5 separate regions of the Homo sapiens genome follow, and all the other regions are linked to region 4. Evidence: fine-mapped expression QTL. A gene starts in region 4. Each other region holds a variant in brackets. All regions are shown on one strand. Distances are from middle to middle.

Region 1 (5,096 bases), 220 kb after region 4:
TGTCCATTTATTTGTAAGTGTAAAATATGTGTGTTTGTTTCAGCAGCACTTAAAAAAGCCAGTGTCTGGTTACACATTTCAATTTTAATTAATTGACATAAAAATGCTACCGCCAGTGCCAGCTGCATCCTATTTAATTAAAAAGGTACTATATTTGTACATTATTTTTTAATGTTAAAAGGGCTTTTTTAAGTTTACAGTACACATACCGAGTGACTTTAGGGATGCTTTTGTGTTGAAATGTTACTATAGTGGCTGCAGGCAGCAACCCAGAAACACTTTAGAAGCTTTTTTTCCTTGGGAAAAATTCAAGCACTTCTTCCCTCCACCCTCACTCCAACCACCCCAATGGGGGTAATTCACATTTCTTAGAACAAATTCTGCCCTTTTTTGGTCTAGGGATTAAAATTTTGTTTTTCTTTCTTTCTTTTTTTTTTTTTTTCACTGAACCCTTAATTTGCACTGGGTCATGTGTTTGATTTGTGATTTCAAGACCAAAGCAAAGTCTTACTACTACTGTGGAACCATGTACTAGTTCCTGGGAATTAAAATAGCGTGGTTCTCTTTGTAGCACAAACATTGCTGGAATTTGCAGTCTTTTCAATGCAGCCACATTTTTATCCATTTCAGTTGTCTCACAAATTTTAACCCATATCAGAGTTCCAGAACAGGTACCACAGCTTTGGTTTTAGATTAGTGGAATAACATTCAGCCCAGAACTGAGAAACTCAACAGATTAACTATCGTTTGCTCTTTAGACGGTCTCACTGCCTCTCACTTGCCAGAGCCCTTTCAAAATGAGCAGAGAAGTCCACACCATTAGGGACCATCTGTGATAAATTCAGAAGGGAGGAGATGTGTGTACAGCTTTAAGGATTCCCTCAATTCCGAGGAAAGGGACTGGCCCAGAATCCAGGTTAATACATGGAAACACGAAGCATTAGCAAAAGTAATAATTATACCTATGGTATTTGAAAGAACAATAATAAAAGACACTTCTTCCAAACCTTGAATTTGTTGTTTTTAGAAAACGAATGCATTTAAAAATATTTTCTATGTGAGAATTTTTTAGATGTGTGTTTACTTCATGTTTACAAATAACTGTTTGCTTTTTAATGCAGTACTTTGAAATATATCAGCCAAAACCATAACTTACAATAATTTCTTAGGTATTCTGAATAAAATTCCATTTCTTTTGGATATGCTTTACCATTCTTAGGTTTCTGTGGAACAAAAATATTTGTAGCATTTTGTGTAAATACAAGCTTTCATTTTTATTTTTTCCAATTGCTATTGCCCAAGAATTGCTTTCCATGCACATATTGTAAAAATTCCGCTTTGTGCCACAGGTCATGATTGTGGATGAGTTTACTCTTAACTTCAAAGGGACTATTTGTATTGTATGTTGCAACTGTAAATTGAATTATTTGGCATTTTTCTCATGATTGTAATATTAATTTGAAGTTTGAATTTAATTTTCAATAAAATGGCTTTTTTGGTTTTGTTATGTGTGTACCTTGGGTCTTTTCTTGTTCACGGTTTCTCCCTAGTCTGATGTCTACTCCTGCTTACACCTGGGCACTGTTTGGTCTTAGGACTTGCCAGGGCTAGTTAAGAGAAGAGATGCTATATTACTGGGGAGAAGAAAAAAAATCTTGGTAAACGGTGTCTTCTTGTTTTGTCCTGTTCCTAGCGAGGGGTGGGCAAAGAATCTAGCAGTGAACTCACTTCCTTACTAGCTTGTGTCTGAAGGAAGGAGTGCTCACCTCATCCTTGAGTAAGGCCATTTATTCCAACTGGGGGACCTATCAGGCGTATAGATGCAGTCTCGATGGCTTCATGATTCTAATCTCTGAGAACATGAACAGGGCCCCGCAAGTGAACCTCTGGCTATCAACAGAAGATCTCAGGCAGCCCAGATATAGGCTAGTCTGTTTTCCTTTCCACATCTCTTTTGGGTTCTTAAAAATAAAGTCAACCAAAGCCCAAGGATGAGTAAAAACGGACCTTGGCCTGGAGGGCTATAGCCTCAGAAGAATTCTCCTAGTGAACATAACTATAGTTTGGAGATTTTTTTTTCCCGTGGCCATTGTTTATTTTTGGTAAGTCCCCCCCCTTGTGATAAGGTTGAAGACCTGGGGTAGAAAGGTTGCTTTCTCTGTGTCCTATGCTTTCTGAATGCTTGGGCTCACCACAATTCTAAAATAGGGACCCAGGAAAACATGGTGCAGAGAAGGTCAGCCAGTGGCCAAGCTGACCCACATCACAGGGAGAGTTAGAGACCTTGAAGATCTGCTCATTCTTAACCCTTTGGCACTATTTTCTAAGAAATCTTGGAAATAGTTAAATTCCAAGAATAGGAAATGTCCTGAAAGCACTTGGGTGAGCTTAAGCCAGGGAACTTGTCTGCAACTCTGAGGATGTAGATTTATTTATTTAAAAAAAAATCAAACATCTGTGTGACTTTAAAGGGCATTCACAAGGGAGGTGGTCACAGTGGCTTGCTTTCTGTCTCCAGTTTTCTCTATCAGGATGGTCTAGGGCAAATCCCTTTATTCCTCTGTGTCTCAGTTTCTTGGTTTATGAAAAGGCATTGGGCTAGATCTTGGCACTATTGACATTTCAGACTGGGTAATTCTTTTTGTGTGTGTGTGTCAGGGATGCTCTCCTGTGTATTGTAGGATGTTTAGCA[G/A]CATTCCTAGCCTCTACCCACTAAAAGTTAGTAGCACCTCCCTAGTTAGGACAATCAAAAATGTCTCCAGATGTTGCCAAATGGTCCCTGGGTGGCAAGATCACCACCGATTGAGAACCACTTAGCTAGAGGCTTTATTGACAGAACTGATATGAGAATACATTGCTTATTAAATCAGAGTAGCCAGGCAGAGGCTGAGGGACTTCCCAGTGATGGCTACACCTCAACCTTTTCCATCCCTTCACTTGATTTGGATGTATCATGAGGGCTGCTGTTGGCTTTTTCGTCTGCACCTCTTCACTCCTCTCTGCAACATGGGCTGTGCAGCCAGTGAACAGCCCAGCTGTGGGGCTTTGTTAAGCCTGGATTGGTTGGCCATATTTATCATGGCCTGTTTCTCACTGAAACGGCAGGCGGAAGAAGAAAGCAATTTCTGCAGTGTTTTTGACCCCTGGTGTCCCCTATCCCCCAAATATTTAATCATCAGGCATTTCTGCAAGAGTGGGTGTTTCCTGTTAACTCAATCCCAGCCGGGACTGGCCCAATAAACACCTCAGGTCTCTGTCATAGAGTTTATTTGGCTGGGAAATGGGTATTGCCATGTAAACAGGAAGGCCCCTGAAGTTATTATCTACAGACGCAGTGGAAGAGCCGCATGTTTATATTTATGGGACTTGAAAACAGTATGAAAGGCAAGGGAGGATGTCAGGGAAGCCCTCATTGGCAGTCAGTGAGAGCAGGTCCTACAGCTCTTTATTAGTTAATTTTTCATTCTCTCTGGAAATGGTTGGTAAACAATAATGACCTAGCCAAGAGCCACTGCAGAAATGGAGGTACTGGCTTGCCTGTACCTAGATTACCAGGTTAACAATAAGAAATGCTATCAGTTGGCCTCTCTGTCCTAACTATTCGAAAATTATTTTAGAGATCAGTCCTAGGAAGCAACAATTTGGAGGTATCTAAAAAGGATGCTTATGAAACAGTGTCACCATCTCTAAGTTCTTCTGGGGAAGTGGAGGACAACTCAACTGACTGCTCCAGTTGTAGTGAGTGTGGGCCAGCTCACCTGTGAAAATCCCAAGCAAATTCTCATGCATTCACTCCTTAGTCAGTTTCTGTGAGGCTGGAAAGGACATCTTCATGCAAGAGTTCATAACACCTGAGCTGTCCAGGTATTGGTACTGGGAATCAGGCTTACACCCTAGGCCTATGCACCCCAGGTATACTCCAAATTGCTCCCAACCCTTCTCGGCTCTTCCATTGTCTCTCTCCTCTGGCCCGGAAAAGGTGCTAAGAAAGGCCAGGTAGGAACCAGTATGTGGAGAGCTGATACTCTTGATTTAAACTCTGGGTTCTGAGCAAAGGCAAGGGAGTCTTTCCTTCCTCACCACCATTGCTGTGGACCCTGAGAAGCCTCTTTGTGTCTTCTTAGGGGCTTCTCAGCGGTAACTACTCAATCAGGAGGCCTTGGAAAGGAAATTTTAAAAAGTTATGAATCAAAACTTACCAAGGAAAAGGATCCAGTGAAGACGCAAAGGGTAATACACCAGGGATGTGTGTGTGTGGGCGTGTGTGTGGTGTATGTGTGTGTGTGTGTGGGGTGTATGTATGTGTGTGTATATGTGTCTGTGGTGCATGTGTGTATGTGTATTTATGTGTGTGGTGCATGTGTGTATGTGTGTGGTGTGTATGTGCACGTATATGTATATGTGTGTGTATATGTGTATACGGGTGTGTGGTGTGTGTCTATGTGTGTATGTGTGCATGTGTGGTGTGTGTATGTGTGTATATGTGTGTGGTGTGTGTGTGGTGTGTATGTGTGTGGTGTGTGTGTGCATGTGTATGTGTGTGTGTGGTGTGTGTATGTGTGTGTGGTGTGTATGTGTGGTGTGTGTGTGCATGTGTATGTGTGTGTATATGTGTGTGGTGTGTGTGCATGTGTATGTATGTGCATGTGTGTGTATATGTGTGGTGCATGTGTATGTGTCTGTGTGTGGTGTGGTGTATGTGTGTATGTGTGTATATGTGTATGCACACACAGGTATGTGTGTGCCTGAAGGGAGGGAAGGAGGAGGGTGAAGTTTGGAAAGGGTACCTGAACAGCCACCCACTCAGAGAAAGATGGGGCTCACCACCCCTGCACATGTACTCAGGAGACACAGTGTTTCTTGGCCTCAGTTTTTTATTTCTGCAAATTCTTCAAAAAAAAAAAAAAGTACTGCCTTTATCCCACAAGTGATAAAGAAACAATTACTTGTCTTCAAATAGGTTACTGGGACAAGGGACACTGGATGCTCCTTGATATGTCAATTAAGGGAGCAGGGAGAAGCTAACATTTAAGGAGTTTTTAGTAATTTTTGTAAAGCTATTATTCAAAAGTTTGTGACTCAATCCAGCCCTGCTA
Region 2 (5,109 bases), 230 kb after region 4:
AGATTATTATTGAATACGATTCTCAACCACACCTTCTGGAGCACAAACTGTGAGCTCAGGTTGTGCAGGGAAAGATTGGTGAACCAACCGTCATTCCTCGTGGGCATGAGAGGGAGAGAAGGATCCAAGGAGAAAGCAAGTTTGAACTTCAGCAAGGAGTTAAGTGGTTAATAGGAACTCAGTTTTTTTTTTTATTGGCTAATAAAACCTCTCAGCGTTTTTCATATTATATGGTCCCTTCAGGCTCCTAGCCCAATGGCTTAAAAAAAGGGAAAGACAAAAACAACAACAAAAAGCTGGAGCCTAAATACCAATGCAGTCCCAGTCTTGTTTACTTTTTCATTTCCGCAGTTGTAAAAAAAAAAAAAAAAATTCCTCTGGTAGTTCAACTTTATCATAGGAATTGCAGGAACGGACCGGTGTTTGAACAACTCCAGTCATTCCTGCCTCCCAGTGAAAGGAAAAAATATGCTCTGCCTGTGTGTGCCTGTTTCAGAAAAAAAGTTGACCACGCTGCAAGTGATGGATGCATCAGGAAATCTTAAAATGAAAGCAGGGGTGGAAGGAGGGAGCGCAGATATTGAACTGAAACACATCTCTGGAATCCTGAATGCAAATGATCTCTGTCCTTTTATTGCCAGTGGTGCTGTTCTCCCAACAGAGCAGGATGTTCTTGTTTTTAATAATAGCCAGGCCAGATGCTAAATTCGCCTCAGCAACATGCTGTATAAGTGAGAAGGCAAACAGCTGATTCCTGTTAAGACGAACACCAGGAGAATAAGCCAGAAAGTATGAGAATTCTCTGGAGGTTTTTGCTTTGTAAACCCCTGTTTGGCAGAAAGATCACAGAATCTGAACTGAAAACACAGTGTGTCCCCTGCACCCGTTCCTCGGCGGAGCTGCTTGCTGGGGGCCTTTAAGCCTCTCGCCTTCGCCATCCAGCCCTTTTCTAAGCTGTCCAGAAGACGAGCTTACAGGTTTCCCAAGAGGGAAAGTCGGAAGCCCTGAGTCCTTTGACTTTTAATGACTGTAGAAAAATACTCATCAATAGGAGGATTTTTTTTTTTACTTGTTCCTTGCAGTAAAAAATAGCGAAATCCTGAACACGAGCCAGTATTTTTAAATGGCATCTTTGTTCCATCTTTTTCACTACCTTCTTCCCCCTGTCAGAGTCCATCAAATCCCTCAGATACTATTCCTTTCAGAATAAGCCACACATGCAAGATGCTGCTTTCTTCTTTCCCAGGGAGCTGCCAGAGCCTGTGTGGTGTTCTGTGCGGCTGGGCTGACCAGATCAGACAGTGACCAGGCTGCACGCCGCTGCTAGCTCATGCCACCTCCAAATGCTGCCCTGAAGGCCCTTCCTGGAGAGCAGGGGTACCCTGTGGAAGGGGTCTGCAGAGTGTTGTCTTCCAGTCATTCCTGGGGGCTTTGCTTCCAAGGCCTGCAGGAAAGTGAGCGAGAGAAGAAGGGGATGTTAGGAGGAGGTTGAGAAGCTCGCCCCAAAAATAAGTTCCCCAAAGACCCCTTTCATTACCTTTCCTGTTCATATCATCCTCCTAAACCCTCATACTTTCTCTCTCCAATTGCCACATCCTCCCCTGAAATGCAGAAAGTGCACATTATCCTTTCTATTTTTTCCTCCCTAGCTGTCCTTGAAGTTCACTTGGCCTTGATCTCACTAGTATGAACATCCTGGGGGGAAAGGAATGGGAGCCAAAGATGATTTTCCTCCTTCCCTACTTAGGATGGCACTGAAGCCCATTGTTTTAATGTCTTTTTGAGGAAAATTCAGATTTGGTACCAGTAGCATGATCACATATGTACCTGGCACTTTTCTTAATGTTTCACGTGCCTTATCTTAATCTTCCCAGCAACTTATGAAGAAGTTAGTACTGTGTTTATCCCCATTTTACTGATAGGAAAACTGAGGTTCAGACTTGTCCAAGGTTATACAGCTATTAAGACTCAAGTCTAGATCTGCTTGATACCAGAGACTATGTTCCTAAGCTCAAACTTTGGGCACAATCTCTGTATCATCTGTATAATGGAGGTTATGAGAAGTAAATGAATTAATGAGATCTAAAAATGCCCAGCA[G/A]AGTGTGTGGCACATAATAGATGTAAACTAGATGGTACGTTTTATTATTGTTGATAATAATTAAGATTGTTTTTAAAAGCATAAATAAAATGTTCAATTAGTTGGAATCACAATAGAGCTGAAGCCAGAAGTGGAAGATTTTTAAAAAATGCTATTTTAACATTTTTAAAAATGTTGCTCTTTGACAGAGGTTTTTTTCCTATATATTTTATAAACTATTTTTCTACTGAACATTAAGGTTCAGGCTGTTACAACAGCCATTAGTCCATTTCATTAAGGTTAAGTTTGGCAATTGGCTTGCTATGGGCTTCTTCCCTAGGGAACCCGGAGATATCGTATCACGTAAACCATGAATGGAATACATCAACACCTTCAGAACAAGAATGTTGACCTTACCCCCATCCCAATCCTCAATCTGTAGTCTCTTCCAAGGTTTTCCATGTAGGTATGTTGTGTTTTGTGTGAACAATGTCACTGAAAATGTTATTATTGCACTTAATTTGGCAGCATTGGCTTCATCTAACTAGAAAGAGACCCGAGCCAAGAAATTCCTGTCAACTTCAACCCTTACCTTTCTATGAATGGCTCTGGGGTCCTCCTTGCAATCTGACAAAGGGGCACTACCCAGTTCCCTCACATCTGAAGTGGAACCCCTGATCTGGGCAAGGCTTTGTGTTGGTGTGCAGAAGCCTGGAGGAGCCCAGGGATGGGGCACGACCGTTTCTTGCCCTAAATGATTTAAATCACTTTGAATGAATAGGTAGGCTTCTCTCCAAGTATCTTAAAGTATCTTGCAGACTATTTTCTTAAATCTATATGGAAAAAAATATTATATTTTACTGAAAGTCCAGATAATAGAAATTATCTCTCTCCCTCTCACACTCTCTCCCTTCTTTTCTTTCTTCTCTTTGAAAATATTTATTGAACAGCTACTATAGGCAGACCAATATGTTGGAAGGCTTGCCGTCATTAAGAAGCGTATTGGAAAGCATGTCTGTTCAACTTAATCCATTTCAGTAAAAGAGGTTTTTGTCATGCCATTCTTTATTTTAAGCAAATTCATGAATTCTTGAGATTGCAAAAAACAGATATTAAAAGTAGTAATTAGTTTATAGAGAGAATTTAGACAGTTTTGATTTCTGTTTATAGCCAGTTTCATTTTCCATTTCTCATTTCCTAAAGCAAACACTCAAATATTTGTAAGGTACTTGGCATCTATATTTAGTCACACAAGACTTTCATTCCCACCACATATATGGGTGGTTTGGTATTCTAAAAGTGGGTGATTTTCATACAGTCAAAGAGGGAAAATCTACTCTTCCATTTTCTCCACCCTGTTGTAGCAGCCATGAAGCCAACTCTCCCTGAAGGGGTTGAGCAGTGTATTGAAAGGGGGACATCAGAAAGTGGCAAAAAGTTCTGGGTTCCAGATCCTTAACCCCTACTAACTAGATGCATGACCTTGAACAAGCCACTTAACCTCTCTTGACCTTCTCTTTAACTTGGGACAATAATATATTGCCAGCCAGATGGTCTGCTGAAGGACCATGGAGCTCTTACCTATAGATTTGGAATGGCTTTTGGAATGGAGAAATTATGGGGAGTTTTAAAAGACTAGAGTCTGTCTAACATTAAGAAAGAGAATGGGGTCCATTGTTTACTGCAGAACTGGCAAAATGGTCATTTTGTAGAGGATGGGGAAATGGAATCCCAGAGAGGTCAAATCACTTTTGAAGGATCACCCCATAGACAGATGATTGGAAGTCAAGGGTCAGGACATCTATTTCAAGCAGTTTCTATACTCACTCACCGTAAGAGATATTTCCTTCCTTCATAATAGTAGCACCTTCTGCATTATATTTTCATTAACTACTTTTTTAATGTCCTAGTTTTCATGAACCTATTTTCATTTGTTATAAATTTAGGCAAACTGATTTATTAAAACTTTCTTATATAAATTAATTTCCAACATGCTGATCCCATACCATGCTCCAGCTAACCTTATTAATTAAAGACCTGTTATATGTTACTTTATTTAAAACATAGATGAAGTTAGCATACCAGGCCTGACTTAGAGGATGAGAAATCCAGTCTAGGAGCATCAGTGCCATTTCTTCCTGGAGAAAGCTGATATATCTGTTGGCAACATGCTTCAAGTTGATTTCCGTTTAGTGGACAAGAGGGATTTTCTCACCCAGACCCTTGCCATCAATGCTAAGGGTAGTGGCTTGGAAAGGTCTTTCTATTTGCTGTTTCAAGCTTTGGCCTCTAGAGATGGGGCCATAGTCTTGACTTCATTAACATGATGTCCTAGCCACCTAAACAAATCAAAGCATAACAGCTATTCTTGAAAAAGGGCTTGTCATCTCAATTGTACCTTTTATCTGCTTGCTATCTAAGTTACCTATAACCAATATCCCTTTGTATTAGTCCATTTTCACACTGCTGACAAAGACATACCCAAGACTGGGCAATCTACAAAAGAAAGAGGTCTAATTGGACTCACAGTTCCACGTGGCTGGGGAGGCCTCACAATCATGGTGGAAGGCAAGGAGGAGCAAATCATATCTTACATGGTTGGTGGCAGGCAAAGAGAGAGCTTGTGCAGGGGAACTCCTCTTTTTAAAACCATCAGATCTCATGAGACTTATTCACTATCATGAGAACAGCATGGGAAAGATTTTCCCCTATGATTCAATTACCTTCCACCGGATCCCTCCCACAACACGTGGGAATTCAAAATGAGATTTGGGTGGAGACACAGCCAAACCATATCACCCTTCAATTTAAAAAGTAGAAGGGGAAAACCATTCTGATGGGGTGATGATAGAGCACACAGGTATTAAGTATAGTGTTATAAGACTTATAACATAGTTCATCTGACCCCTGTTTAATGATAGACACAGCCATTATTGTGCCAAGTGATTCTCAGACATAAGTGTCAAGTCATTTACAGGGCAGAGGAAGGTGGAAAGCTAAGAGGAGGAGGAATTTGTGGCTTCACCCCATCC
Region 3 (5,109 bases), 200 kb after region 4:
GGAGGCAGAGGTTGCAGTGAGCCTAGCTTGTGCCACTGCACTCCAGCCTGGGTGACAGAGGGAGACTCTGTCTCAAAAAAAAAAAAGATGCACTTCAATGGAAAGCATCATGCATGCAGGTGTGACCAGGCTGGCTTTGCAGGCAATCATTAGATGATCACACTGGGCAGTGCGTGGCAACAGCTCTGAAGTGAAGAAACACTTAGGCAAGGGGCTATCAGTTCCTTCAGGCTGGCGAGCTAATATCCAGCAGTCAAGAAAAGTCAGTCCAGGTGAGAAACCAGCACTTGTCCTCCCTGTGGAGTCAGTACCCAAACAGCTTCTTCAGAGGACTGAGAAATTGGGGCTTATCTTAAATAGCAAGGAACTTGAATTGATAAGGGATGAGGAACATGTTCTAAGCAGAATCTCATAACCACAAGCCAAGCTTATAGGAGAAAGCTTTAAACAGGTAACCCTGTTGGCATCACAGTTGTAGTAAGCTATCACTCCATTCTCAGATCCTTCAACCATGCCCTAAAAGGAGATTCCTCCTCATGAAACTCTAAATTTGGGGCTCTGGAAGTTAGCTTCAAGATCTTATGCAGATATGAACACTTTTTCTTATATTTCCTGTTTAAAATGTAATGAAGTTCCATTTCTCCATGGACACAGCTTTCTGTTCTTTCTGGAATCCTGAAGTTCAGAGGTGTGTGTACTGAAAACTATTACAGCCATTTGTTAGTTTGTTTTAAAGGAAAGGAGAGTAGTAAAATCAGGACCTGGAGAGCACATTTCCCAGTGACCAAACCTACTCAAAATGTATTTGATGGATTTATTTTGAGTTTTGGAAGCTCAAGGACTCCATAGAAGATACAGTTCAAAGGGTGTCAGCATGGGGAATCCAGAATAATTCTCAGAGCTCCAAAAACTTCATAGATTGGAGCTTCGGATGATGGGTTGGCTGTTTCTTTGGCTGTCAAACCTAGTTTTTAACCTTTCTCCCTGGTTAAAAACTAGGTTTGACAGCCCATTGAGGGAAACGGGAAGAACAAAGAGATTGGTACAAGTACAATCTGTGAGTTAGGCTTATTGCATTCCCTTTCATTTAGAAGGGTATAGTAAAAGAGAATGGAGGTGAAAAAATGTAATGTGAATTTTCTCACTAGAGTCAGAAGCAGCAGATAACAGATAACAGCCCCTGGAAAAAAACAGTCACTTTAAAAAGGAATAAAATTGGTAGGGTAGTTTATTGAAAAGAGGCGTGCTTTCTCCCCATGAGCCAAGAGGTCTGAATCCTGACAATACACATGTGTGTAATGAATTCCCCTCCTCTTCAGATGAGTGGCTGGACTTGCTTATACTAATGCCCTCCCCCTCCAGTCTTAAGGCATTGGTACTGATCTTTTTCACTCCAACAACACCGTGGTATAATAGTGAAAATCACCGCACAGGTGGGTTAGGAGATAGGTAACTAGGAGATAGATTAAAACTAGGGAACTGGAGATGTGGTTATCTTTCAGCCCATTTGCAGACTTTGCAAGCTAGTATTTGAGGTGTCAGCTTTGGACTTGCAAAGCCACAGCTTCTGCAGATGGCTAAGTTGCCTTCCTCCTGCACTTTACCACATTCCCTGGTACCTAAGAGAGAAAAACTATTTCTCCAAAGTGAACCCCTCCCAGGGGTCTTCCTACCACCATTTTAATAAAAAGGTTAAATCTCAAACTGCAAATTATAGAATGTCTAGTTAGAAGTTTGAAAACAATCTTTGTAAAAGTTCATTAAAATCAAATAAGCAGTACCACTTTAGGTTATATAGAAGGCGATTTGGAGGTAAATCCCTTCAGTTATCTAAAAATGTGGCAAGTAAGTTCCAACAAGTGTAACAAGCAGGTTAACACTGAGGGAAACGGGAAGAACAAAGAGATTGGTACAAGTACAATCTGTGAGTTAGGCTTATTGCATTCCCCCACAGTATCCTATTGCATATGAAGAGGTCCATGGTCCAGTGCAGTTAGATGACAGTGGACTCTGGCAGCTTATCAAGCTGCTGTCTCCAGAGGATGCTGCTGGTCATCCAAGAGAAGTGGAAACTCGGGCATGTGCAACAGAATATGTACAGACAAACTGAGGACTCCCCCAGGAAGGAGGAGGCATCTTAGGAGGGCACCTTGAACTCTTCTGCTCTGCTTCAGGAACTCCAGAGAGTGAGGGAATTAAAAAGGAGCAGGACTATTGGGTCCTCTGTAACAGCTCTTTTCTGATGGCGGAAAGTACTTAAAGCTCACAGATAAAGAACATCATGTTAGAACCTCAGACAAATTAAGTGCAGGGGAAGATGGGAAGAATTTTAGCAACTAACTCCAAAGGTGAGAGTAAAAATAAATGCATAGCAAGACTTAATATTAATAATACTTAGATAGTGCTTTACATCTATAGAAAGCACTTTCATAGACATTATTTCATTTAATCATTACAACGCATTGAAGTATCAATACTACTATACTCAGTAGTTTGCCAGCAGGAAATGAGGGCTCAGAGACATTTAGAGATTTGTTCAGGGTCATCAAGTGAAAGGGATAGAGAGTGAAAACTCAATTCCAGGTCTTTTAGCTCCACATAATATGCTTTTCCCTACTCTGCGTTGCTGTAGGAGTCTCCATATCAGAATCGGACTTTGCTACAAAGGCCTGTTGGCTATCATCCTAAGAGGAATATTTGTTATCACTGATCTTTCCAGCCCAAACCTGGATAACACCATTAATCCTTACTAAGTAGCCAAAATTCATGGTTTGATGCAGATCAGAGAACCCAAAATAAAGTAAAATGGACCAAATCCCTAACAAGAAATAATAGTGGAAAAATCTACCTCCCAATTTTGTAAACATAAATTTTATTCTAGAAATTAAAAATGTACACATTAATGAAATCTTAAAACCTCAAAATAGGCCAGGCACGGTGGCTCACACCTGTAATC[C/A]CAGCACTTTGGGAGGCCGAGGTGGGCAGATCACAAGGTCAAGAGATCGAGACCATCCTGGCCAACATGGTGAAACCGCATCTCTACTAAAAATACAAAAATTAGCCAGGCGTGGTGGTGCGCACCTGTAGTCCCAGCTACTTGGGAGGCTGAGGCCGGAGAATCGCTTGAACCCAGGAGACAGAGGCTGTGGTGAGCCGAGATGGCGCCACTGCACTCCAGTCTGGCAACAGGGTGAGATTCTGTCTAAAAAAAAAACAAAACTCAAAATATATGGTTTTATATGTGGGGCGAGGAAATTTAAAGCTACTTAAATTTTGCACGATATATTCTACCTTGCAAGAGCTGGAAAGGTTGATACAAAAAATCATTTATTTAACTTTGGATAATTCAGATCAAACAATTTGCTTAAATAATCTAGAACAGAAAAGAAAGAGAAATAGCTCACGTGGTATCTCCCATCGAATATGGGAGCCTGAAGTGTTAGTTTTAACCTCCTTTACTGCTAAATTTAAGGATGAAAGACTTTCTTAAAAAGTTAGTAGTGTTCCCATTTTCTTTTGGCCTGTGTTGGGAACTGTTGTTAACAATTACATTTTTTTAGTTTTTAGAAAAGATCCTAAATTTTTGAATTGACATTTTGTACATAGAAAACCTAGATTTTTTTTTTTTTTTTTTTTTTTTTGCACATTGAATGTATAGCTTTATTACCTCATTTTGAAAACTAGTACTGCTTTTTAATGAATGGGGACCATTCTTTGCAGGAACAGTATTTCTAGTAGAATTTTTGAAGGTATTTTTGGAATTCTCAGACTTGTCCAATATGTAGCAGGATCAGAATTTTAGAGCAGGGAAACCCACAGAGATGATTTCATCCCCGCCCCTCTTTTTACTGACAAGGAATGTGTGGGTCAGGGAGGGAAAGGGACTCCACCGTGATCACCCTGTGAGGCAGGGACAGCACTGTGGCCAGAACCCACATCTCCAGTTGCTAGTCCAACACTCTAGAATTATTTTATCCTGCTACTCTTCTCATAGGCTACTGACATTGTATTAAAATTGCTATCCATGGCCATTGTGACCTGAAGAAGAAGAAAAAAAATGAACCACCAATGACCTCTTCCTCCTCTGCACCTTTCCTCTTTTCACCCGAAAATTAAGTCCTTATGAAAAGATTAAATAGATGTGGCCCTGCATCTGTGGCAGCACTGTCTCTCCTGACCAGTCACTGACTGTTTTGGTCCACATCTGGAGTGGACTCAGTGGACATGATTCTCAGGCTGAGAAAAATAGGACTTGGATTTTGTCCTTGGCAGGCAGAGAACTTCCACTGTTTGAGGAGCTACTACTGGACTACTGTGTGTTTGTCCCACGTCCCACAGCTAGCTAAGCAGACCGGGCTCTTTTTTTTTTTTTTTTTTTTCACGGTCATCAAAACAAGTAGCTCCTCTCAGACACCTTAATACATAATTAGGTGTGTCTGTTTACACTTGGGAGACAGAGGGCTTCATGTCCCAGAGAAATACAAGACGTCTGGGAACAGCCACAAACAGATGTTGAAAATGTCCATTTGTGGCGAGTTTATTACTATAGCACCAGGAATAAACATTGAAGATGAAACCCCTCTGAAGGGGTGTGTGTGTGTGTGTGTGTGTGTTGAGAGGGGAATGTTATCGAACAGAGTAGAAAGTGAAAGGAGGTTCTATTTTTTAAAAAATTTGCTCTAGTATTTGTTTATCTCCTGCAACAAGGAAAATTTCGCTATTTGGCTTTGGCTGTTTGAAGGCTTTTGCCAAATGCTTAACAATCTGTAGGGTTTGATTTCTTTCAGAAAGACCACTTTGAGAACAAGGCTCTATGTAACTAAGATGTGTTTGTTTTTGTTTAAATCACTCAGAAGAGAAATCATCTCTTGTCCATTGTTAAAAAGAGAGTTTTCAATCAAAGGAAAATTCTACATATTCTAAAATATACAAACAGCTCTTTGAAACTGATGCCAAATCAAACTCTAAAAGGGACGTTTTTCTTGCAGAAGTTTTGAGTTAATTCTGTGTGCAGGGCTTGAGTGGAAAAACGCTGAGACTGTCAGAGGAACGAGTTACTACAACACTACATTTGGATTCGGAAGTTACATAAGGAGCATTGTCTCAGGA
Region 4 (5,109 bases):
GAAACTATAAGCTTATTTGAAAAGAAGAAAACCATTTGCTGATCATACTACAGCAGCTACCTACATATTTTCAATTAAGTGATTCTGCTATTATAGGTACACATGAAACCATGTTTGGAAATCCCACAAGCTATAAGGACAAAACCCTCCTTTTGTTTACTTTGGATACTAATTAGAGATACAGATAATATGGATACGACTTATTTATAAAAGAGAAAAAATAATTTTTCTCTCCTTCACATGAATAACTGCATGTTAAATGAACGCTTTTACCTTTCAATGTAAAATCTGTTTACACATACAATAAGGCATGATAAATCCATAGTTAAAATAAAACACCAAAATGTATTTCTGGTTTTTTATCACTAAAAGTTTATTCTGAAAAGGTTCTGGACATTTGAAAAATAAAGGACTAGAATCATTCCCATACCCTACCAGTGTATTTTGGGAAAATCAAATTTTCTGTAAAGAAACTTATGAACATATTTGTACAGTTATTGTGATCTAATATGAACCAAAAGCAGATAATGAATAGCACTAGGAAGAACACAGGGATATTTTAGTTCTAACACCCTCCTGTCTCCCTAGCCCTTACCTCCCTGCACATTCCAAATAATCTTTTGTAATTCACTGTCTCCGCCCACCCCATTTACTTTATGCCACTCCTAGTTACTGTCACACTAGGAAGAAGTCTAACATGCAGATTTAGAGTGGCATGGATAAATGGCAAAAAAATGCCTAGAAAATTGGTCTGTTCGCCTTTATAATTTTGGTTGAAAAATACTCCATCGCTCCCAACTGATGAAAACAGGAAGCTCTATTCATAAATATAAAATTCACTGCCTATGATATATAATCATCCTAATAAGAAAATGAGTTCTATACATACTTGTCCAAAGGGGCAAAAAAGGAGATAGTTTCCCAAAGATGTTTCCAATTTTCTTCTGAATCAGAATTAGCAAATCGAGACGACTAACATACTCTGTCTGTGGGCATTATTCCTTACTACACACAGCATTTTGTAATTTATTTCAAAGCTTCCATTAGAAACAAAAAAATACATAGCTTCTGTTAACCCACTCTATTCTAAGCTCATAGAATCAAATACTGAACAATCTACATTATAACATAAGCATTTTACTTTATAGAAGATCTGCTATCAGAAACTCTATTAATGTCTAAACTACTTAAAGAACTATATAAACTGAATACACTTCAATGAAAGACAAAAAATATTACAATCATAAAGAAAACTAAGATTCATCCAATAAACTATATTACAATCCCTGTCATTCATTTTTTTAAGATCTTCAAACTAGGCATGAGATAATGGTATACATGAAACATTACATTTAATCTTTATTGTAAAGGCCGCCATCTAATAGATTGATAATAAACTAGACAGACGTGATTTAAAATTTGTAAAAGAATGCCCAGACTAACACTTTCATGACAGCCAATTATAGTCAAGCCTAGCAAGCAGTTTGCAACCAGACCTTAAGGTAAACTTTTTTTTTTTTTACAATGAGTTACAGATTCACAAGTTTAAGAAGACAAGAAAAAGGAAAACAGAAGGAATCCAGCCACCCAGCAAATATGAAGCAGACCCCAGAATGTGATACAGTCCAAAGATGTGAATTATTGTATATCATCACTGTTGTTCAGAATTTCACACAGACTCTTGAGCCAATTTTGTTCATTTTTCCACAGACACAATAATGAACTAAAAAGAGGAGGCAAAAAGGCAGAGGTTGAGCGGGGAGTAGAAAGGAAAGCCCTTAACTGCAGAGCTCTGCTCTACAAATGCTTAACCTTACAGGAGTTTGGGCTCCTTCAGCATTTGTATTCTATCCAAATCCTCATGAGTCACAAAAATTAAAAAGCTATATCCTTCTGGATGCCAGGAAAGGCCTTACCACAAGCCTTTTGTGAGAGAAAGAGAGAGAGAGAAAGAGCAAGGGGGAAAAGCCACAGTGGTAGGCAGTCCCACTTTACTTAAGAGTACTGTGAGGTCACAAACCACATGATTCTGCCTCTCCAGTAATAGTGCTTGCAAAAAAAAGGAGTTTTAAAGCTTTTGCTTTTTTGGATTGTGTGAATGCTTCATTCGCCTCACAAACAACCACAGAACCACAAGTGCGGTGCAAACTTTCTCCAGGAGGACAGCAAGAAGTCTCTGGTTTTTAAATGGTTAATCTCCGCAGGTCACTACCAGCCACCGAGACCAACAGAGTCAGTGAGTGCTCTCTAACCACAGTCTATGCAGTAATAGTAGGTCCTTCAAATATTTGCTCATTCTCTTTTTGTTTTGTTTCTTTGCTTTTCACATGTTACCAGCTACATAATTTCTTGACAGAAAAAAATAAATATAAAGTCTATGTACTCCAGGCATACTGTAAAACTAAAACAAGGTTTGGGTATGGTTTGTATTTTCAGTTTAAGGCTGCAAGCAGTATTTACAACAGAGGGTACAAGTTCTATCTGAAAAAAAAAGGAGGGACTATGGCATCAAACAGCCTCTTCAGCACAGTGACACCATGTCAGCAAAACTTCTTTTGGGGTAAGTGTTACCATTTTTAAAATCCTGTAAGATATGAACCTGTTAAACATAAAGGTATGATTCTTTGATAAACTGCTAGCTTTTCCAAATAGCATATTAAAGATCCTAATTATGCTATCTTGTTGCATTAAGAATTGAAAAATGAAATTTCTGTATATATTTGCATTTGGTATCTGTAATGTATCTAATTTTCAAAGTAATGACTTGAAATATACAAAATTAAATTATCTCACATTGATCAAAATGTTTTCTAGAGTTATAGAGGTGAGGATATGAAAACAGTAAAAGAAACAGTTTAATACTCTCATTAACCCTCACCAGAAGAAAAGTCAGATCCTAAATTAATCAAAGCATTATAAATTATTGACTCCGGCAGCTCCCAATATTTGAGCAAACTTCAAAAAGGAAGCAATTTTACAAAATAACAGACCACAGAATTATCTCAACATTATGGTCTACCATGTATAACACAGAAATAAACCTGTAGTACAGTTAACATTTTAACCAGCTCAACTAAAAGAAATCTACTTATAAATTCAAACTGTATCCTATCTAAATAAGTTTGTTTCTAAACAACTTTATATAAGTATACATTCAGCTGAAATAAAATTATGATAAGCACATCACAGCCATTTTTAAAAGATCTTTATAGTTGCCCAGGATATTAAAAAGTTCATGGAAGTATTTTAAAACTTACATGCAACTGCATTTTTCTATGTAATTTTAATTTTACATCTACACACTGTTATCCATAGACCTTGTTATAAACACACTGAAACACTGAAACGTCTAAGATTCTTTTAATCACATTCTTGGACCTACCAAAATGAATAACTGCTGTTTAGTCTCATGAAAAATAAAGCTCCATAAGGATACCCTGTATGATTTTTAAAAGCCACAACTATTAAACCATGCTGGACTTTAAAAGAAGTAGGCATAATCTTGTCCCTTAATATTTAATTTCAAGTTACTGTTGATACAGATATGTAAATGACTTTAACATTCATCAGCTGATGTGTTATTATAGCAAAATATCTAAACACACTTACAAGATTCTCTTTATGATCTCCAACATGTTCCAACTACAAGGCAAGTTTTCAAAAATTTTTCTTATATCCATTAAAATAAACCTTCTTGCTGTGTACATCTATATTAACTCTGCTTTTAACTTACAACTAATGACTGGAGTTTCCTTTACTCCTCCTACTTCACACATTTTAACTGGATACTACTAGAGGATCAGTCTCAGTTTAGGTCAAACAGAAATAATTAAACCTGAAGGGAGAAAAAATGGTTTCTCTTACAGGGTGAGGAAATGTACTTTGTATTTTACAAAAAAAAATGTAAAATTGCTTTAGTGACTCCCTCAATAGCTGTAAGTGGGCCCCCTCAGTTATAATATATACAATATAATAATCACAGATTAATTTAAAATTTTAATGATGGGTACCAAGTATTACTCTAAAAACTTCTATATTAAGGAAGCAGGACATAAACACAGCTAGACTACATTACAACACATAGCATAATTACAGCTTATACATCGAAAGTTTTGTTACTACTACCCAAGAGATAAAAGGAAAAAGAATAGTTAAAACTACTGTTACACAGAGGGATAACTTGAAACAGGGATAACAGAGATATCAGGGAGGGATAACAGAGGCAGTTAAGTTACTCTTTCACGTTATCACTCTGTTTAACTATTTATTTTAAACACATTTTAAAAACCAGATCAGGAACAACACAAGTTTCAAAAAATTCTTCAGTATTAGAAGTAAAGTTATCATGAAGAATATGTTAAAATTCTCACAAAGAATATATTAAACTGCTTCTTATTCTATCATAACAGGGATCTTATACTTCTGTAACATTCTTAATAACTATTCAAAATTTCCAAAACTTGACAGGATTCTAAGCAAGGCATGGTAGTGAACCTTTTTTTTTTCCAACATTACAACCAGTTCTTCCTCTTTTGAAAAGTGGGCTGCACCTTCCCTCCCCGCCAGCCCCCAAACAGTATCTTGAAGCCTGAATAGAGAACTTAACATCAACCCACTACCTCAGACTAATTACAGGTGAGTAGTGGACATCATGTATATGTTATCACATTGCAAACATTTCCCCATTCTATAATCTATGCAAAGCCTAAAACCTCACTTCAGGCTTTAGATTTTTATATAATGATTATCACCACCACCTAATGAAATGTCTTAAGTATGTGCCCCAATTTTGTAAAATAGTTAAAAAGAAAGTTTAGGATTTTCCTAGGTGAGGTACAAAGCACACATTAACAACTGCTTCACCTCAAATACAATGAGTGGTGTGTGTGTGTGTGTGTGTGTGCGCGCGCGCGCGCACATGCTAGAGAAAGAGTATGTCTGTGTCCTTGATCTCTCAGCATACTTCACTTTGAGTTAATCAAAAATTTTCAATCTGTACTACTCAAAATCTGTCCATCATTTATCATAAATATAGCTTGCTGAAAATCACAGATGTGACTCATAGAGTATCTTAAAATTAATGACTCATGAAAATATATCAGCTGACTG
Region 5 (5,109 bases), 130 kb after region 4:
AATCCTTGTGTTTGAAGGAATAGGTGGCATTTCCGGCTAATTTATAAATGTCTCCTTTCATTCCTTTCTAAATTGGGACAAATTGCTCCAAAAAGTCTATCAGAAGATTATGTATGTATGTAGGTATTTATCTATGTATGTGTGTGTGTATGTACTTTTGTTACAGCAATGAGGTCCTCCAGCTGAACCATAGCTGAGTTCTATTCCTACTTCTATTCCTGGTGCTATTTGGTCAGTTCTTAGAATGGATTTTGATAGTTTTCACTTCAGGAAAACACAGTCTCAGGCCGGGCATGCTGGCTCATGCCTGTAATCCCAGTACTTTGGGAGGCTGAGGCAGGTGGATCACTTGAGGTCAGGAGTTCGAGACCAGCCTTGCCAACATAGTGAAACCCCGTCTCTACTAAAAATATAAAAATTTGCTGGGCATGGTGGCAGGCGACTGTAGTCCCAACTACTTAGGAGGTTGAGGCAGGAGAATCGCTTGAACCTGGGAGGTGGAGGCTGCAGTGAGCCGAGATCGTGCCATTGCACTCCAGCCTGGGCGACAGTGAGACTTTGGGAAGAAAAAAAAGAAAAGAAAACATAGTCTCACCGTTCTCCTCCACATAAATGTGGCCAGGCTGTTGGAAAGCTCGTGGTTTAGAAATTATTTAAAACAACTGCGTTAGAAAATATTATTTGTACAATAGCATCTTAAATCCCAAGACCTCTATACAACTTACAAAGTAACTGTAGAAATTCAGGGAAATTCTTCTTTTTTAAGTTTTATTTCATTTTTAATTGACAAATAATTATATTCCAGTAAAATTCTAATGTTGATATTTAGATGCTTTTGTTCTTGGTGAGCTTGGTAATTAAAAGAAGGTAATTTTAGGAAAGAAAATCAGCTTTAATAACGTATCCATATTGTTTATTTCTACGTTAATTGAGCAAACATTTGCACCATGGCTGCTCTGTCCAGGGCTTTTGAGAATGCTAAGTGCTGCTGAAATAACTTTGAGAGTCTAACTTGAAAGGGCCTCCAGCAGAATTGAGTATAAACCCGAGATTAGCACCCGTAAAGGTCCATAAAGGGCTTAATTTGTAGTCCTTTTATTTATCTTTAGCACAGTGTGAAGTGTGATGGACTAGGGTGGAAGGTGAAGGAGCAAGGTAAAGAGAGACTCCCGTGACAATCAGCAATACGCCTTTAAGTTCATTGGGCTTTGCTTATCTTTACTAAGCCATCTTTTCTTCTTAGAGAAACTGCAATTATTATTGGTCACAAGAAATGAATATTCTCATGTACCTTACAGGATTTGTTTATCCTGTTAGTCTTTAATAGCATTGTAGATAAATGCCCTGCCATTGTAGAGAGGTAATCATACTTTTAGTTTTTGATAATTTAGATTATGTGGAAAAAATTCTGTTTTGGTGAAAATACGACATTGTTAGGACTAGTAACAAAAGCATATATATGATGCTCAGTGCTGCCAATTATTTCTTTTTACATTTGAAATAACATTTACTTAATTTAATTAGTATACAGGAAGATCTGTTGTAAACATTTCAGAAAATTCAGAAAGCATTGAAAAAAAGGTAAAAAGTCATTTGAAACTCAACACCAAAGATAATCTCAGTTAATATTTTGACATAATTCCTTTTACTACTTTTTCCTAAATGTATTTGTATGTATGAATATATATTCACATATACTTTTTATTTTATACATTTTTGCATTTTCTAAACTGATTTTATTTTTTAATTATTCAAAGGAATTGACTGACCTATACCCTGAGTCTTAATCGCAAAATGGTAAATCCTGTTCGATTAAAAATGAACATTTTGAAAATTGATTTACAAAAATTGGTATAAAATCTATTCCTTTAAAAACATTACAGCCCACTGCATTATTTTCTGATATGGTTGCCTGCCTCAGAAGACAACTCATATGAAGTGTACATTCTTCTCCTTGCTTTTCTTCTTGTCTCTTTTTTCCTTTTATCTCTGTTCTGTTTTATAGGTGCTCACAAGATGTTTGGTATGCTAATCGAATAAGAATATGCTATGTTGGGCACTCTAAGCATGCTTTGAGGGTCTCTTGGGTTTCCTCTTCAGACTTCCTCAAGGCTCCATCTCTTTATGTCATCTTTTGGAGTGGCTTATGTATACCTTAGCAAAGGATGCTCAGACCTGCCCTATGGGCTGGGTTTTCAGAAAATAATATATTCTGTATTTGCATAGCATACAAAGTTTGTAATAACATTGATGACTTCACAACAACTCTGTAAAGCAGACAGAGAAGATGCCCTTTTTCAAGTGATAAAGAAGGCTGGAGAAATTAGAGAACTTGCCCAGGATCACACATCTGTGTTGAACATTTCATATTTGAAATTGGTTAGTATGATTCAAATCAAATTCAAGTTGAAAAAAGGTTCCTGCTGTGAATTTGAAGAAAAATGTGTAAGATGTCACTATTTTACCACATCCAAAATAATTTCAGATTACTCTAACTAGAAGCTAGCCAATTTTTATATGCATTTTTTTGGGAGGAGGGGGCAAAAGTAAGTAGGAATCAGATACATGTGAAGAAAAAAAAATTCAAATCAATTTTGGGGGTTACATAGTTGTAGTTTTTGTTCTGAATTGCTCTGGTGGAGGATCAAAGAAAAGC[A/G]GAATTAATGGAGAAAAAGAGATATGTAGAAAAAAAGAAAACATTGCCTTTTTAGTGTAGCAGCTTGTTCATTACTAAGGATGGAAGGGAAAGGTAATGCTTAACCTTTCCCAACAGAAGAAGGCTGCAAGTCAGGGCAGGGATGGCTGAATCAGCAGGTAAGGTAGTTCTTTTTTCCTCCTGGACCATCTCCATAGGAGATAGGGTGACTGGAGAAGGGAAGGTGGAAGGAAGATCCCATGTCAGACAATGCTTTTTCCTATTTTTGGAATTCTAGAAACATGAAAGATGAGAGGATGTAGATTTGAAGACTCTAAAAATCCTGAAAAGTATAACATTTTCAGTTCATAAGTATATCTGGAAAAGAAGAAGCATTCTTCTTGGCACATGCTTTGCCTTAAGCTACTAAAAGTCTACCTGAAAATGCAATTTGAATTATTATTATTTTTTATTCAACGCTTGTAAAAACTAAAGCAGCCTTTCTAGTGTGACTTTTGACATCAAGGAGGCTAAGTGAAGTAGAGAAAAGTAGGAGACTAGGTTGGGGAGGCTGGCCCATAGAACAAAGTAGAAGAAATAAGCCAGGGCAATGGCAGCTTGGCTGATGAGAGCCTGGGACTGAGTGGAAAAACATAGAGGCCCAGTCAGCCATTGTGGTTAAAAGCTTTGTGAAAAGTGTGCAGAGGTGGCTCTAAAATGCATTTGTCTGGTTAATATGACAAGGAAGCTCACAGGCATATGAAGGTTTAACAGGCAATGAAGGCTCTCTGACAGTCTATATGGGATCTAATCAAATGCAATGATAAATTCTGGGATAGGATTTTTTTTTTTTTTTTGACAGAGTTTCACTCTTGTTGCCTAGCCTGGAGGCTGGAGTGCAATGGCGCGATCTCAGCTCACTGCAGCCTCCGCCTCCTGGGTTCAAGAGATTCTCCTGCCTCAGCCTCCTGAGTAGCTGGGATTACAGGTGCCTGCCACCATGCCTGGCTAATTTTTGTATTTTTAGTAGGGACGGGGTTTCCCCATGTTGGTCAGGCTGGTCTCAAACTCCCGACCTCAGGTGATCCACCCACCTCAGCCTCCCAAAGTGCTGGGATTACAGGCATGAGCCACCGTGCCCGGCTTGGGGTAGGAAATTAAAAACAAAAACAGTGCCAACTTTTAGGCAATGAAGAGTATTTGTTAAGCATCTTACATTCTTGATGAAACTACCTAGAGTCTGTGTTTCACTTTTGTAACATTGAGAAATCAGATAGAAATATTGGGTTACTAAGGAATCAGCTGTGACAATTTTGATAAACTATACATTTATTCCGTGTCACCAATGTGTTAACTGGCAAATACATTATGATCTCCTTCAGTTTCTAATCCTTTTTGCCAAGTAAATAAATTAAATCAACAATAAAATTTTGATTATTTTTCCTCTCTGGTATAAGACATTTCAGTAAAAATATATGAAAAATAAACTGCGAATGGAATCTTCCAGTTAGCTGAATGGACCTTTCAAGGTTCATATATTCATTCTACATAAAACTCATATGTAATAATCTGTGGCAGGAGGGAAAAAGTGGCTCTAAGTATGATCTGGAAACATACAGAACCTCTTGACTCCTTCAAATTCCTGAGGTGCTCTTTTGTTAATGTCTCTGGTTTCAGAGGGCAAATGTTATGGATGCAAAACCTCAAGGTCCACAATCTGTCCTCTTGGAAAAAACTTGCCAACAGAAATGCGTAGCTGTATTCTCTGTTTCTAAAACCTGACAGTAACCTGAAGCTTTGAGCCACTTGCCTTCTTCCTTCCCCTCTCCTGATTAATTTCCTTTTCCCTGTGTGTATGTGACATTAAGCAGCCCTTATTTCTGTCTGGATTTCTTGACATCCCATATTCTCTCTTTAGTCTCAACCCTTACTCTTCTTTCAGTTGAATTTACTTTAGCTTGGGTTCTTGCCATAAAGAACCCCAGAGCTTGACATGTTTATAGTTATTTGTACACATTCTTATGGTCACATACATCATGATCTTCCATTTTCAGTATCAAAAACCGTATTCCCACAGAGCAGAGATATAACAGTTAATTTTCTTTGTAAAAATCATAGAATTACCTAAAAATAACTGAATATACTTGAATTGCTGAATATACTTGAAATTCTGATCCTGCTTTTCTCTACGTTGCTCACATCAACCAGGCAGCCACAGTATTTACTGAGCACCTGCTGTGTGCCTACAAGTATGCCAGCTACACACAAGTTTGGAATATAAGGCACAAAGTTTTACTTTGGAAGAATTAAAATATGGTCCTGGAGATAGTGCTATAATTAATAAACAATTAGATGGCACTGTGTATTCAATTCGGCTATCACATGTTCATTCTTTCAACAAGTGTTTATTGAGCCCTGCCATATGACAGACATTCTTCTATGTGTTAGGAATATAGCCTTTAACAAAATGTACA

The links. PIP is the estimated chance that this variant, and not a neighbour inherited with it, causes the effect.
Region 1: its variant is fine-mapped to the expression of RUNX2 in blood mononuclear cells (TOPMed, PIP above 0.99). The same link has a PIP of 0.9 or more in whole blood.
Region 2: its variant is fine-mapped to the expression of RUNX2 in neutrophils (CEDAR, PIP 0.91).
Region 3: its variant is fine-mapped to the expression of RUNX2 in whole blood (INTERVAL, PIP above 0.99).
Region 5: its variant is fine-mapped to the expression of RUNX2 in putamen (GTEx, PIP 0.99).

What each region holds. Positions count from the first base shown.
Region 1 is chr6:45,549,576-45,554,671 of GRCh38, forward strand. RUNX2 (RUNX family transcription factor 2) reads left to right here. Exons shown (of 9, transcript NM_001024630.4): 9 at 1-1,507. Among named protein-coding and RNA genes, the nearest start is that of RUNX2-AS1, 25 kb to the right of the region's middle. The variant G/A (reference allele first, on the strand shown) is at 2,693.
Region 2 is chr6:45,555,715-45,560,823 of GRCh38, forward strand. No RefSeq gene overlaps it. Among named protein-coding and RNA genes, the nearest start is that of RUNX2-AS1, 19 kb to the right of the region's middle. The variant G/A (reference allele first, on the strand shown) is at 2,099.
Region 3 is chr6:45,528,547-45,533,655 of GRCh38, forward strand. All of the region lies in intron 7 of RUNX2 (RUNX family transcription factor 2), which reads left to right. Among named protein-coding and RNA genes, the nearest start is that of RUNX2-AS1, 46 kb to the right of the region's middle. The variant C/A (reference allele first, on the strand shown) is at 2,957.
Region 4 is chr6:45,326,225-45,331,333 of GRCh38, forward strand. RUNX2 (RUNX family transcription factor 2) reads left to right here and starts at 2,106. Exons shown (of 9, transcript NM_001024630.4): 1 at 2,106-2,236; 2 at 2,437-2,560. The coding sequence starts at 2,503. The region is part of intron 2 of SUPT3H (SPT3 homolog, SAGA and STAGA complex component); the gene reads right to left. RefSeq lists a cis regulatory region at 824-830, a promoter at 1,788-2,428 and an enhancer at 1,835-1,875.
Region 5 is chr6:45,454,547-45,459,655 of GRCh38, forward strand. All of the region lies in intron 5 of RUNX2 (RUNX family transcription factor 2), which reads left to right. Among named protein-coding and RNA genes, the nearest start is that of SUPT3H, 79 kb to the left of the region's middle. The variant A/G (reference allele first, on the strand shown) is at 2,657.